4 separate regions of the Homo sapiens genome follow, and all the other regions are linked to region 1. The links come from fine-mapping of genetic effects on plasma protein levels. Region 1 holds a variant in brackets. A gene starts in each other region. All regions are shown on their reverse strands. Region 1 overlaps APOE (apolipoprotein E). Region 2 holds the start of ANGPTL3 (angiopoietin like 3). Region 3 holds the start of PDGFC (platelet derived growth factor C). Region 4 holds the start of LPA (lipoprotein(a)).

The links. A credible set is the group of variants that fine-mapping cannot tell apart. PIP is the chance, under the fine-mapping model, that this variant and not a neighbour inherited with it causes the effect. The UK Biobank Pharma Proteomics Project read protein levels with antibody pairs (Olink). The fine-mapping took linkage between variants from a reference panel, not from the people measured, so its PIPs are less certain.
Region 2: it holds the start of ANGPTL3, and the variant in region 1 is the best candidate, but not a certain one, in a credible set for the plasma level of the ANGPTL3 protein (UK Biobank, PIP 0.72).
Region 3: it holds the start of PDGFC, and the variant in region 1 is the best candidate, but not a certain one, in a credible set for the plasma level of the PDGFC protein (UK Biobank, PIP 0.59).
Region 4: it holds the start of LPA, and the variant in region 1 is the best candidate, but not a certain one, in a credible set for the plasma level of the LPA protein (UK Biobank, PIP 0.63).

The regions. Positions count from the first base shown.
Region 1 is chr19:44,908,887-44,911,499 of GRCh38, reverse strand. It overlaps APOE (apolipoprotein E), which reads right to left. Exons shown (of 4, transcript NM_000041.4): 4 at 2,107-2,613. The coding sequence ends at 2,250. Among named protein-coding and RNA genes, the nearest start is that of APOE, 4.4 kb to the right of the region's middle. The variant C/A (reference allele first, on the strand shown) is at 1,524.
Region 2 is chr1:62,595,432-62,599,431 of GRCh38, reverse strand. It overlaps ANGPTL3 (angiopoietin like 3), which reads right to left and starts at 1,912. Exons shown (of 7, transcript NM_014495.4): 1 at 1,371-1,912; 2 at 626-736. The coding sequence starts at 1,865. The region is part of intron 14 of DOCK7 (dedicator of cytokinesis 7); the gene reads left to right.
Region 3 is chr4:156,969,661-156,973,922 of GRCh38, reverse strand. It overlaps PDGFC (platelet derived growth factor C), which reads left to right and starts at 2,124. Exons shown (of 6, transcript NM_016205.3): 1 at 2,124-3,137. The coding sequence starts at 3,020. RefSeq lists an enhancer at 1,837-2,337.
Region 4 is chr6:160,661,238-160,665,499 of GRCh38, reverse strand. LPA (lipoprotein(a)) reads left to right here and starts at 1,225. Exons shown (of 39, transcript NM_005577.4): 1 at 1,225-1,334. The coding sequence starts at 1,286.

The DNA of each region.
Region 1 (2,613 bases):
GCTCCTGGACATACGGTGAATCAGCAGCAGGCCCAGCAGACCAGGCCCCCTGCCTGTGAGCACACTGACCCTTCCCCTCCTCACTCAGCCCTGGTGAGTCATCTCCAGGGGAGGGGTGCTGCCTCCACGTGGGTGATCAGAGCAGTGCCAGGGAAAGCACCAAGTTCAGGGTGTGCAGGAGCCAAGATGGGCAGAGGGACAAGCAGATGTTGCAGCTGGCCCAGGAGATACAAGCTCAAGTCTCAGCCTGTCCCCCGTTGGTGGGAACCCTCCTCCCCGTCTCTGAGAACTGAGGGGGTGGGAGGAGAAGAGAGTGCCGGCGGCTCCTGGGCTTCCATCCAAGCTTCCCCTCTCTGAGCGCCAGCTCTCGTCTCAGCATGGGCCTGGTGCAGACTCCGACAGAAGAGCCGCTCCCTTCTCTTCCCAGCCTGGATTCAGCACCCAGTAGGCTTGTTGGGAAACATGAGGGGTAGACATCACAACTGGAGGAAAGGATGGAGAATGAGGGATGGTCCGGGTGAGGTGGCTCATGCCTGTAATCCCAGCACTTTGGGAGGGTGAGGCAGGCAGATTACTTGAGGTCAGGAGTTCGAGACCTGCCTGGCCAACAATGCCGAAGCCTTGTCTCTACCAAAAATACAAAAATTAGTCGGGTGTGGTGGGACACGCCTGTAATCCCAGCTACTCTGGAGGCTGAGGCAGGAGAATTGCTTGAATCTGGGAAGTGGAGGTTGCAGTGAACCAAGATTGCACCACTGCACTCCAGGCTGGGCAACAGAGCAAGACTCTGTCTCAAAAAAAAAAAAAAAAAAAAAAAAAAAAAAAGAAAGAAAGAAAGAGAATGAGGGTTGGGCAGGGAAACCCAGTTCACAGTGGGTGAAGGGACAGCTAGCTCAGAGGGAACCGGAGAAGCAGAGAGCTCAAACCAAACTGAATGGCAGAAGAAGAAATCCAGATGAAGGGGGTTGGGGGAGAAACAAGCAGGCCGGGGAGAAAGAAAAGAAACCGTAGGAGGGAGAGATAAAAGATAGAAGTGGAGGAAAACAGGAAGCCAGAGTCTCCTGAGGAGAACAGGGAGAGACAGAGGGGTGGGATGGGGTGCAGGGTGGGTGGGAAGGAGGCAGATATCAGATAAGACTGGAGGAGAGAAGGGGGAGAATAATGACAGCAGAAAAAAAATGAAAATAGCTTAGAATAAAGGCACCAATCTCAGGTCATTTGGAGTTGCAACTCTGAGGAACAAGTATTATTAAGTTGGGCAGGCCGGGCTCGGAGCCCCATGCCTGGAATCCCAGCACTTTGGGAGGCCGATGGCGGAGGATCTCTTGAGCCCAGGGGTTTGAGACTAGCCTGGGCAACATATTGAGACCTTGTCTCTACAAATAATAATAAAAAGCTGGGTGTGGTGGTGCTAGCCAGTAGTCTCAGCTACTCAGGAGGCCAAGGTGGGAGTATCGCTTGAGCCCAGGAATTCCACATCAGCCTGGCCAACAAAGCCAGACCCCATCTCCACACACACCACC[C/A]CCCCCCCCAAATTAATCCTAGTGGTATGCGCCTGTAGTCTCAGCTACTGGAAAGGCTGAGGCGGGAGGATCACTTATCACTTGAGTCCAGGAGGTGGAGGCTGCAGTGAGCTGTGATGGCGGGTGACAGGGTGAGACCTTTCCCTGCCCCCTAAAAAAGAAAGAGGGGCAGAGGCCGGGCATGGTGGCTCAGGCCTGTAATCTCAGCACTTTGGGAGGCCGGCGGGTGGATCACTTGGTCAGGAGTTTGAGACCTGCCTGGCCAACATGGTGAAAGCTCGTCTCTACTAAAAATACAAAAATTAGCCGGGTGTGGTGGTGTGAGCCTGTAATCCCAGCTACTGAGGCAGCAGAATCGCTTGAACCCAAGAGGCAGAGGTTGCAGTGAGCCAAGATCGTGCCACTGCACTCTAGCCTGGGTGACAGAGCCAGACTCCGTCTAAAAAAAAAAAAAAGGGCAGAGAGAAAGATACACACAGACACAGATGGAGAGGAGGGGGCTGAGAATTGTGTGGCCAGTATGTGGGCAGAAAGAGAAACTGAGGCTGGGGCTTAGAGGAAATCACAGGGGGAGGCCAGCAGATGCGTGAAACTTGGTGAATCTTTATTAAACTAGGGTCCACCCCAGGAGGACGGCTGGGGCGGGGACAGGGTCTCCCGCTGCAGGCTGCGCGGAGGCAGGAGGCACGGGGTGGCGTGGGGTCGCATGGCTGCAGGCTTCGGCGTTCAGTGATTGTCGCTGGGCACAGGGGCGGCGCTGGTGCCCACGGCAGCCTGCACCTTCTCCACCAGCCCGGCCCACTGGCGCTGCATGTCTTCCACCAGGGGCTCGAACCAGCTCTTGAGGCGGGCCTGGAAGGCCTCGGCCTGCAGGCGTATCTGCTGGGCCTGCTCCTCCAGCTTGGCGCGCACCTCCGCCACCTGCTCCTTCACCTCGTCCAGGCGGTCGCGGGTCCGGCTGCCCATCTCCTCCATCCGCGCGCGCAGCCGCTCGCCCCAGGCCTGGGCCCGCTCCTGTAGCGGCTGGCCGGCCAGGGAGCCCACAGTGGCGGCCCGCACGCGGCCCTGTTCCACCAGGGGCCCCAGGCGC
Region 2 (4,000 bases), not on the chromosome of region 1:
CCTTGTAAGTCTTCATTGGGAATTTTTTGTTTGATAACGACCCTAAGGGAAATCAGAGAGTGGGCCACGTAGATACCAGGGCAGAAGAGCGTTCCAGTTAGAGGAAACAACAAGGGCAAAGGCTTTGAGGTGGCAGTATGTTTGATGTGTTTGAATACTGGTAAAGCGGTCAGAATAACTAGAGTAGAGGAGGTGAAGTCAGTGAGATGACGAAGGGTTGGGTAATCTTGGTCTAAAGAGCCAATATGAGTGAAATGGAAAGCTATTGTGTGGTTTTGAGCAAAGAGAAACATGATCTAATTTGAATTTTAGTAAGATGACATTGGCTGCTATGAATTAATTTTTTTTCTTACAATAATCCTATAAGTTCTGTTATTATCTTTGTAGTATATGTGAGGAAACTGAGAGATAAAGGGGTGAAGTAATTTATTCAAGGTCACACAAAGTTTTAGAGCCATGGTTTAAATGCAGGTAGTTTATTAGCTTCAGAGCCTGCAATTTTAACAGTTATGCTGATGTGATAATTTTACTCATGATCCAGTTAAAGCTTGTAAATAATTTTAGGATTCAGTGTTTTTACAGACCTGTGTGAAAGATGGGACATACCATTAAAATACTGACTTACCTGATTTTCTATTTCTTTTATTTGACTATGCTGTTGGTTTAATTGTTTATATTGGTCTTCCACGGTCTGGAGAAGGTCTTTGATGCTATTATCTTGTTTTTCTACAAAAGTCTGGATATAGAGAGTAGGTTGGTTATAAGTTGCTTTCCTCTTTCTTTTCTATTAATTTCCTGTAACACTATCATAATCTAAATTTTTAAACTAATAATGGATTTGAAAAATGAATATTGGCAATTCCTTCCCCTTGTATGCTTCTTTCAAATAGCACATATTTTTGTCCTTAACATTTTATTTAAATTGTACTATCTCTAAAATTTGATTTTCTGAACTTCAATTAAAAGAAAAAGCCCAGCATATTTTCATATGAATAAATCTTTTCCATTTACTGTATTATTTAATCTGTTTTAAACACTGGAGAATAGTTTTAAATTTTTTTTAACTTTTTACTTACCTTCAGTAATTTACAATAGTGTAATGACATAGTGTTCTAGATTGTATAATTTAACCGATTTGTAATTTTCATATAAAATGCAAATTTTCAGTGTTTTCATATATAACATTAGGGAAACAAAAAACTAACTTGAAATTATAATAGGAAATTTTATTTTCTGGAGATTATTTTTCTTGGAAAAAAAAGTATTTCAACAATGCAACAAAGTATTTCAAATGGCATGCCTTAGAAATATTTTTTTTAAAAGATCCACATTGAAAACATAAACATGAACCCTCTTTATTTTCTACTTACTTTAAGTGAAGTTACTTCTGGGTGTTCTGGAGTTTCAGGTTGATTTTGAATTAAGTTAGTTAGTTGCTCTTCTAAATATTTCACTTTTTGTTGAAGTAGAATTTTTTCTTCTAGGAGGCTTTCAAGTTTTGAGTTGAGTTCAAGTGACATATTCTTTACCTCTTCATTTTTGACTTGTAGTTTATATGTAGTTCTTCTCAGTTCCTTTTCTTCTTCTTTGATTTCACTGGTTTGCAGCGATAGATCATAAAAAGACTGATCAAATATGTTGAGTTTTTGAAATATGTCATTAATTTGGCCCTTCGTCTTATGGACAAAGTCTTTAAGACCATGTCCCAACTGAAGGAGGCCATTGGCTAAAATTTTTACATCGTCTAACATAGCAAATCTTGATTTTGGCTCTGGAGATAGAGAATCAAATGATGAATTGTCTTGATCAATTCTGGAGGAAATAACTAGAGGAACAATAAAAAGAAGGAGCTTAATTGTGAACATTTTTATCTTGATTTTCAATTTCAAGCAACGTGGAACTGTTTTCTTCTGGAAGCAGACCTAGACTTCTTAACTCTATATATACCAATATTTGCCCAGAAAAGGTAAGGTTGGTAGGTGAACATAGTTAATCATTAAGCCGTGTTAACTTGCACGAATGTAACCTTCTTCCACATTGAGTTAGATCAATGCTAAATGAAATCAAAGAAATGAGCAACTAACTTAATAGGTAATTTGAAATTGTATTTAACTTTGCTGTATTATAAACTACACATTCAATGCTATGGTGACTACCTGTTTTTAAAAGCTAATTTTACTTTTTTATGATTTTAAGAGATTTACAAGTCAAAAATAAACTTTTTTGTTGGGTAAATTTATTATTAAAGTTGAGGGGAAAAAAGTAATGAATTAAGTATGCATTTCTCAAACTGTACTTTAGTTCTTTTGGAAACAGTGATCCATTCCAAAAAACACTTTCTCTCTGAAGCCTTTCTCCACTCCCTCAGGTGGTGTTACGGCTCTCAATGCTGTGTTCCTCTGGTACTCTGTATAAATCAATGTATAATTATATGCTCCTCATTTTTTGTCACTATAATTGTTAATATGTTTTTTTGCATCACCTTATATGTCTTAACCATCCTTGTATATTGTCACAAAATCCCATATATAGTAAGTGTCATTAAAGACATTTCACTCCCTTTTCTCCACTGTGTTCTGTGTCTCTGTGTTCTAGGCTCTTTACCATGTGCTCGTTGAAGGAACAATGGATATGTGGTCATCTAGGACCAAACTAGAATTGAATCTTAAATACCTTCAATGTCACAAGCAGCTTGCCCATCATAAGTTTTTCTGAAGTTTGTTAGCTTAGTAACAATTTTGATAATATACATTTAACAAAAAGAGGAGATTAATAACATTTTTTTTTTAAAGATGATGTCTTAATGTATTGCCCATGCTGGTCTGGAAATACTGGGCTCAAGCAATTCTTTTACCTTGGCCTCCCAAAATTTACAGGCATGAGCCCAGCCGATTACAAGCGTGAGCCCAGCCAATTAATAATATTTCTAAAAATAAATGTTCCACTATGCTTCCAACTTAGTGTTAAAAAAATACTAAATGCTTATATTAGTGATTATTCTTATTGAGTGTTCATATTAAGAAATTTGTGAGAAAATAGCATCCTTTAAAACTGCTTAATCTTGACATATTAATATGGTGAAATTGTTAAGAATATGGGTGCTGGAGTCAGACTGTGGTGTGGGTCCAAAAGCCGGCTCTAGCTGTCTGGCCTTGGACAAGTTACTTAACCTCCCCATGGATTAGTCTCCTCATCTGTAAAGCTGGGGTAATTATAGTACATAATTCATAGTGTTATGATAATTTAACAATAATACATGTAGAGCACTTAGAACAGTGCTGGGCAAACAGGTAGTGCTCAAAATGCTAGTTATTATGTCACATGAAACTAACTTTTAACCTGTGTATGTGTGTGGGTATATATAATCAACCTTACCTAAAAGAAATTTTTCATAAAGTTAATAGCTTTTTAACACAGGGAAAAGTTTTATCATAATAAATTTCAGTGTAAATTATAAATTGTTAATACAAAATAAACCATTTCCAAATTTCTTTTCTTTTTTAGAGACAGGGTCTTGCTCTGTTGTCCAGGCTGGAGTGCAGTGGCATGATCATAGCTCACTATAGCCACGAACTCCTGGGCTCGAGCAAGCCTCCTCCCTCTGTCTCCCAAGTAGCTGAGACTATAGATGCATGCCACCACACCCAGCTAATTTTTAAATATTTTGTAGAGACTGTGTTTCACTATGTTGCCCAAGCTGACCTTGAACTCCTGACTTCAAGTGAACCTCCCATATCAGCCTCTCAAAGTGCTGATATTAAAGGAGTAAGCCACTGTGCTCGTCCCTAAATTTCTATTCTTAGAAATGCCTCTTCATTGTGTAAAATAGAGGCTCTTCCTTTTGATGACTTAGGATTAAGGGTTTTGGGTATAATAGTTACAGTAGAGGCAGTATTCCATAGTGGTTAAGAGCATGATTCTGGAATAAGACTGCCTGAATCAGAATCCCGGATTTCATATTCTTCAGCTTTGTGACCTTTGGTCAAATTACTTCACATCT
Region 3 (4,262 bases), not on the chromosome of region 1:
CAAGCAATATTCTAGCCAATATGAAATGATACAAAATAAAGAGTAGTCATCACCCTTCCAATCTCCTGAGAGCAAATGGATTACATTTGCAGACACACACACACACACACACACACACACACACACACACACCCCACCTCTATGTGGGTGGTCAGGAAACTCAACTATATGGACATATAACAATTTCATTTAGAAAAGTGCTGATTAGAAAACTAAACTTACAAAATTAGAAAAACTGGAGAATAATGAATTTTATGAAAAATAGATTACAATGGATTCATAAGGCATGCCCTTTATTTAAGTCCCATTATGTTATTAAAATTGGGAATAACCCTTCACCCTCACAAATTTACAAAATATTTTTGGAACACATTATGCAAATATGGAGTCACACTGGTGTTGTGGAGCTGCTAACTCGAATAAAATACCATACTTGATAAAAAACCTTCTGTCCACTAAACTGTAAATGCCTTAAAGTCAAAGATCAGGCCTTATTTGCCTTTAGTGTATATTTAGTACTCTGTAGATAGAAGTGGTAAAGGGATAAGAATGAATGAATGAGACAGGCGGGTGAAATTTTCAAGAATGAGACAGATGGGTGAAGTTTTCAAAGGTTTCTAAAAGGGAAAAACAAGAAGACTAGGATATTCCAAGCAGAAAGGTCTGGTTGGTTGGCCCCAGTTGGTGTTCGCATATAAGAAGAGGGCTTGGCATTTTCCTCACCACTGAAGAAGGATCAGCCCCTGGTTTGGTCCAGTAAGAATATGTTCTTGCCCAAATGCCACTCCTTAGTTTCAGGGACATTGCTATTTTGGTTTTCTGTTCCAGCCCAAGTGTTCTTGATGGTCGAATTGTTTGCATTGACTTTTTTTCCACAAGAAGTTGGGTGATATTGCTGATTTGCCTGCCATGGCACTTCCTTGTTTTCATTTTGATTATTACTCAAAAATAGCTTCATTTTAAAATTCAACTTTTCTGACTCTCTGCTTGTGCCTTTAACACATTGACAATGATTTTCTGCTTCTCCACAAAGAAAGCACGTTGGATCCTGTCACAGACATATTTAGCAGACATGGAACCACCATAAGCCCTGCTTGGCATGTGTGTTTCATTTCAGACTACCTCATGAGAACTTTAGGTCTTAAAGCATCGGCCTCTCTCTCCAAGTCAGCCTGAACACAAGCCACAAGAGATTTCAGTTCTTTCTCGACCTTTTTGGTGTAAATGTAAACAATTCTATCACCAGGGGTTCAGGGCAGCCTAGTTTTGTTAGAGGCTGTATTGTAGGAAAGTCCAAGGTTGCAGGATCATTCTGAGTCCCTTAGACACCATTCTCAGAAGAGCTTGCTATTAGCTTAATGCTGCCCAACTACTACGTATGCTTCACGAGGGCAGGGACTTTTGTCTGTTTTCACTGCTACGGCTCCAACCTCTAAACAGTGCCCGACATAGTAGGCATTCAGTAAATATAGTACTTGTTAAATGGATGTTATTTTGGCTGCCTTTACTTTTGCTTTATTTGTCCTGCTTTACGGAGCTGGAAATTGGAGGAAAGCCTTTGAATTCATTTCCCTTCTTCCTTCTGTTCTGAAACTCTGGCCAAGGGTCCTAGCAAAGACCTTAGGGAGTGGGGAGCCCTCCTGGAAACTAATGACAAGTCAGGCGACAGGGGGCGGGAGAAGGAGAGCTGCAGGAAGTTCTTTCCCACTTACTTCTGCAGCACCCTTCACCACCCATCGTGCTCTGTATTTGGGGTTAGAGGTGTTCCGTGGAAGGGAAAGCAGGGGCCGCCTTGGCCGCGTTCCTCTCCTGGGCCACCGGGGTCTTGCCCACAGCGAGTCCCGCAGCACCCCCTGTCTGCGCAGCACCTGTTGACAGCCAGTGGGCGGCCAAGCCCGCTCGCGCGGACGCGTCCCAGGGCTGCCCCTCCCAGAGGCGCTGACCCCCGCCCGCCCCATCGGCCGCCTGCGGGAGAGCCGCTGAGCCGCCCCCGCTCGCCAGGCGCGCGCTCCGCCCGGGCTCGGCCCACGGCCCCCACCTCCTGTCTGCCGCCCGGCGGGGGGAAGGTAGAGAAGGGGAGGGGACAAGCCGGATCCTCCCGGCCGCCCCGGCCTTCCCTCTTCACCCCGTGCGGAGACGCCGCGCGTAGCCCCGAGGTTAGCGCGGAGCCCGAGGCGTGGGGGGAGGGGACGGGGAACAACCGGAGCCCCGCGGTGACCCCGAGCGGCCGAATTGCCCCAGGCTTTGAGGAGCGGGGGACGAGCCCGAACAAGGTGAACTTTGGTCGCGGAAAACTCAAGCCAGGTGCCGGAATCCGTGCTGCGGCGCTCCGAACCCGGGGCCAACTGCGCTCCGGGCTGAGGAGCGGGAGCCCCGCGGCCTCTCTCCGCCTGCGCCCGGGCCGCCGTCGGCCCGGAGCCCCCCGGCCCCGCTCCGGCGCCCCGGCCCGTGGGACCCGCCGCGGCGCCCTCGCCTTGTTTCTTCCCCCTCCCCCTTCGGGGGTGGGGGGTGGGGCGGGGGAGAGGGGCGCCCGGAGAGCCGCATCTATTGGCAGCTTTGTTATTGATCAGAAACTGCTCGCCGCCGACTTGGCTTCCAGTCTGGCTGCGGGCAACCCTTGAGTTTTCGCCTCTGTCCTGTCCCCCGAACTGACAGGTGCTCCCAGCAACTTGCTGGGGACTTCTCGCCGCTCCCCCGCGTCCCCACCCCCTCATTCCTCCCTCGCCTTCACCCCCACCCCCACCACTTCGCCACAGCTCAGGATTTGTTTAAACCTTGGGAAACTGGTTCAGGTCCAGGTTTTGCTTTGATCCTTTTCAAAAACTGGAGACACAGAAGAGGGCTCTAGGAAAAAGTTTTGGATGGGATTATGTGGAAACTACCCTGCGATTCTCTGCTGCCAGAGCAGGCTCGGCGCTTCCACCCCAGTGCAGCCTTCCCCTGGCGGTGGTGAAAGAGACTCGGGAGTCGCTGCTTCCAAAGTGCCCGCCGTGAGTGAGCTCTCACCCCAGTCAGCCAAATGAGCCTCTTCGGGCTTCTCCTGCTGACATCTGCCCTGGCCGGCCAGAGACAGGGGACTCAGGCGGAATCCAACCTGAGTAGTAAATTCCAGTTTTCCAGCAACAAGGAACAGAACGGTGAGTCTTTCCCCCATTCTCCCCCTGCTTGTTTCTCGCTGTGTGTGTTAACGTTGGCATTGTGCGTTGGTATGTGATATATACCAGACTGTGAAGGTATCTTTGGTCTCTCATTACATGCAAATGTGCGCTGCGTTCATTGGCATGGACTGTTAAAGGTTAAGTGTAGTTTGCAACTTCGGGAGCTGCCACAAAGCTCCAAGAGGGCAACGTGAGTGCCACTGCTGAGTGAGGACATTCTGGGAGCGATTGTGAACGTCATTTCAAATGCACATTGCAGGTTCGCTCATTGCTAAAGTTAGAAGTTCAAGAACTGCCTCTAAAAACGAATCCAAAATGAATGAGCCTTGGCATGTTTGACTTTACTCAGATTTGGGGAGGGCGAGGGGGGTCGGTCAGGAAATATATCAGCCGCATTAATTGAAGCACTCTAGGTCGAAGTCATCAATTAATCAATGAGTAGATAGGAAATATAGAGGTCAAGAGGCTGTGTGGTCGTTTTTAGAGGAATTAAAAAGTGTATTTCTCTTGCTCCCTAGTTTTTGTTTTTTAAACTTGCCTTTGTACTCTGAAGTCCTTACCTTTCTGGTGGTGTGTTTTTGTATGTGTTGGTGAATGACTGCTATTTTGTGTGTGCTGGAAACGACTTAATCCTGCATAGGAAATGAGAATTACTTTCAGCTTTCAAGTGTACCTGAAATGTTTAGAAAACTCTCAGATGCAAGTTCCCTTGGGCTGGGATTGCACAGAGCTGGAGAAAGGCTCCTTTCATAAAGCCAGGGCAGCTTCAGGGTGTGTAATTTGCTTAGCCTCTGAACCCATATGATTTACATCATTCAATTTCTAAACTCTTTTTCTCTTCATCTACCATTATGAAGTCATTTTTGAGAATACTTTGTAAATAGAAATTTTATACTGCACATGAAACCACAATGTTCATGTTAGGCTGTCTAAAATTGGAATATTTAACGCCCTGTTTACAAATGGTGGCTCTTACTGTAATTTGAAAAGGAATATACATGTTTTTACTGCTTTGTATATCATCTATTCAGAATGCAAGGATTCTGTCACTTGATTAACCATGCAAAATGAACACAAGTGGCATACCTACAAAATTAAGATAGG
Region 4 (4,262 bases), not on the chromosome of region 1:
CTCCCTAGTAGCTGGGATTACAGGTGCCCACCACCACGCCTGGCTAATTTTTGTATTTTTAGTAGAGATGGGGTTTCACCACATTGGCCTGGCTGGTCTCAAACTCCTGACCTTGTGATCCACCTGTCTTGGCCTCCCAAAGTGCTGGGATTACAGAGTTGAGCCACCGCACTCGACCCTATGTTTTATTTTTAAAAATATTTATTTATTTATTTAAGCCACAACTACTAGAATAGGAAGGATTGATATTTTATTAATTTTATTTGGTATTTATTATTTTTTTTTCTTTCCTGAGACATTCTTGCTCTGTCACCCAGGCTGGAGTGCAGTGGCACATTCTTGGCTCACTGCAACCTCCATCTCCTGTGTTCAAGCAATTCTAGTGCCTCAGCCTACTTAGTAGCTGGGATGACTGGCATGTGCCTCCACACCCAGCTAATTTTTGTATTTTTTGTAGAGACAGGGTTTTGGCATGTTGCCCAGGCTTGTCTCAAACTCCTGGCCTCAGGTGATCCATCTGCCGTGGCCTCCCAAAATGCTGGGATTATAGGCATGAGCCACCACCCCCTCCTGGAAGGATTGATATCTTATAACATAATTTATAATTACAGAAAACATGTGAGTTCACTAGGAATAAATAAATTTTGAAGATAATAAAAGATTTTCACTTATGTTGTCATTTCGGCACAGTTTGGTATAGGATGTGGAGATGTTAACATTTATACCTAGCTTGCTCGTAAACTAAGACCTGAAAGGGTTGTGTCTATCAGCTGCACCCCTGGGTAGCGACACAACCTCGGGAAGGCCTCAGCCCCCTCCTCGTACAGCACTGCCTGTTGGAAAGCTTGAGGGAGGCTATGGATGTGCAGCACTTGGCAGAGGGTCTGGTCATGGAAGTTACCAGCAAATATGAGCTACTTTTATGATTTTATTTTATCCAAAAGAAAGAGAATGAAAGAAGAGGGGAGGAAACAAGACTAATCAGGAAAGATGAAGGTCTAGGGGTGAGGGAAGGAGTAAGGAGACATAAAGGCAATGTGGAGCAGCTGAGGGGGGAAATGGCTTTCACCACTTCCCAGCATCTATTGACATTGCACTCTCAAATATTTTATAAGACTCTATATTCAAGGTAATGTTTGAACCCTGCTGAGCCAGTGGCATGGGTCTCTGAGAGAATCATTAACTTAATTTGACTATCTGGTTTGTGGGTGCGTTTACTCTCATGTAAGTCAACAATGTCCTGGGATTGGGACACACTTTCTGGGCACTGCTGGCCAGTCCCAAAATGGAACATAAGGAAGTGGTTCTTCTACTTCTTTTATTTCTGAAATCAGGTAAGACATAGTTTTTTTAAATTATAAGAATTATTTTTTCTCCCACAATGTAGTAAAAATACATATGCCATGGCTTTATGTGCAATTCATTTAATTTTTGATTCATGAAATTCCCAGTTCAAAATCTTGTATATGATTGAAAAATTCTTAAAAAAATAAGTTTAATTTCCCCGTGAAGACTGTCACGGTGCTGGAATGAATGGGCAGAAAAAATAATGGTTGATTTTTCTAATCTAAAAGAGTGTGCCTACATGATGGCCAGTCTGGCTGAAAAATAAATAGCCATTGTAGCTAACTATGCAAAGGATGGCTAAGCTCTTCGCTTGGTTCTCAGTTTCATTAATTTATATCATCTCTGTTCAGGTGCCATGCTCCCCTCACTAGCAAGTTGAAACAATGAAATAACTCTTTGAATATGTTTGGTTCCTTGACCTGTTCATGGAGTGGGACTCAGCATTTCTCTCTTTGTTATGGCCTGAGTAAGGCTTTCCATCGGTATACATTTGCTTCTTATCCCTGGAGAAATTATACACATCCATTTGCCAGATGATATACGCATATAATGATTCAACAAATACTCAGGGTATTTGTTGAGTGGGTTAGGTCCCCACATTTTTATACATACATACACACATACACACCGTGTGTGATTGTGAATGTAAGTGTGTGTCCTTTACAAATACTAGCTTATTTAGCTCATGGTATAGGTAGGGTAGCATAGTCATCCCCATTTTATAAACAAAGAAATCTAGACTTAGGAAAATCATGTTATTTGTCTCGTGACCAAATTCCCAAATCAAGGAAATAAAGAAACCTGGATTTAAGCCAGATTTCCAAGAAAAAATCTAGGGCTCTTCTCACTTTTTCATCTTTGTTCCAACATTTGAAAAAATAAATCTAAACACATTCCAATGTAACTGAAGAGCAGGTTAATTGTTTGCCACTTGCAGAATCCAATTAAGAAGAGAGAAGTCTGGTATAAAGAAAGTGATTTGCTTCCAAAGCTAGCTTAGGGGAAGAAATGCAGCAGTCCTGCCGTACTACTTCACTTTAGGAGCAGAAAGTGGCACTTTTAAAAGGCAACAGAGGAGGCGAGCAAGGATTCAGGGGTCCATGCTAGCTTGGGCACCTTATCCACCAGGTAGTTGAGCAGTTGCCTGCTGGTGCCTTTGTGAGCAGGGTGTTGTCCCTTGAGGCAAATCTCTGGAGGGTGAGAGTTTTGTAGTGGGCATGCTTTGGTTTATAAATCACCTGTGAACTCAGGAGTTCCATCTTGAAGCACATACATAGTTAGATGAACTTGCCCTGCAGGGAGAGTCTGATGAAAGGGAGGTAGATGCTTGCAATTTAATCTATAAATTACCAGATAAAATTTTACAAGTTGACTTTAAAGTCAAACACATTTGAATTTAGTGGAAGCCATTCAAGAAAATATCAAAGAAAATACAGAGCAGGAGAAGATTAAGCAAAGAGTTTTTTGGGGAAATTGGTGTCTATGTCTGTGTGTGTAGGGAGTGCAGGGGATATGAATATTCTATTTCAGCCCATGGAAACTAGGATGTAGATCACTGTGAACTTATTCAGCAGGCTACACCCAAAGGCTAGAACAAACTTCTCTGCCACAGGATTAACATATGTTTTAATCGACCTGGGGGGCACATTCTCTGATAAGCTCTTTTGGAAAGCCAGGCTTTCTGTGGACGTGTTATCTTTCCAATGTGTGCTGGAATGCCCGGGGAGAGGAAAAAGTTTCTTTTACAGCCATGCTCAGTGAGAAGCGGAGAAACATCTTCTATTCACAAATTGCTAAGTCTTTTACACATGCAAATATGCATACACATTCACACACCACAGTGAGGAAGAAATTCTCACACCATTAATAAAATACATTTACTTCAGTAGCAATATACATCTACATTTTGCCTATAATATAAAAGTATTTTTCCTATTAAAAGATTTGTTTAATGTTTCTTCACCAACAAATAAACCCTATTAAATCCCCATTGCCATATGAGCCCTGGAGGTGAATCAGAGAAACAAAAGGATTGTGGAAAAATCATCAGGTTAAAAAAAGAAAAATTGATTCTGTTTTGGGATATTTCCTAGCAACATGAGCTGGGGAGGGGATCTCAGCAGTGATGCTCTATGAAGCATAATAAAATGACACAGTTACAGGTAACTTAGTTAAAGGGGGAAATAAATGGAAGTTTCCTCTTTTTGAATATCAATTGTAGCCTGCTCTGCTACATTTCAAAAACACTCTTCAAAATGTTTAACTGAACTCACTGTAGGAAGCACCTTATTAATTTATTGTGTGTTTTGAAGTCACACTGTGAGCTATAGAATTTACCCAAGCACAACTCTTCCTGGAAAAGAGAGTTCAAATGAGAAACAGTGCGGGGTGAAGACATGGATATGGGCCTAAAATATCTATTTCTCAATGATATTTTGATATATCTATCAAGTGCTTTTTAGTGGATTAGGTTCAGAATGCATCAGCCAATGCCTGTTCAATAATCCAGTTTTCCAGCATAGAGCATATTAAATTGAGGAAGGACAAAGTCACAGAGGTGGGGAGCAGGTGGACTGTGGCCAAGGACTTTGCATGAAACAGTGAGCGTGCATCCTCCTCCTTGCCCTGCCCTCATGGTCTGTGTACTCTCAGGAGGTCAGGACAGGCCTTTCTGAGAATGAGAATCTGTTCATCTGCCTTTCTACTGGATACTTGTCATCGGCATACAAACACATGTTCTCTGCAGTGTGTCATCTTTCAGAACCTCCCCTGACCCTGTATTCCCTAGAAGTCTCGCTGCTTTCAGAGCCAGGCTTCTCTCCTGCTGCCACCCCCACTGCTCTTCTAGTCACTCTTTAACCCACTCCATCTGCATGTGGCCCCCACCACACCCCTCAAAGTGGTCAAGGTTGTCC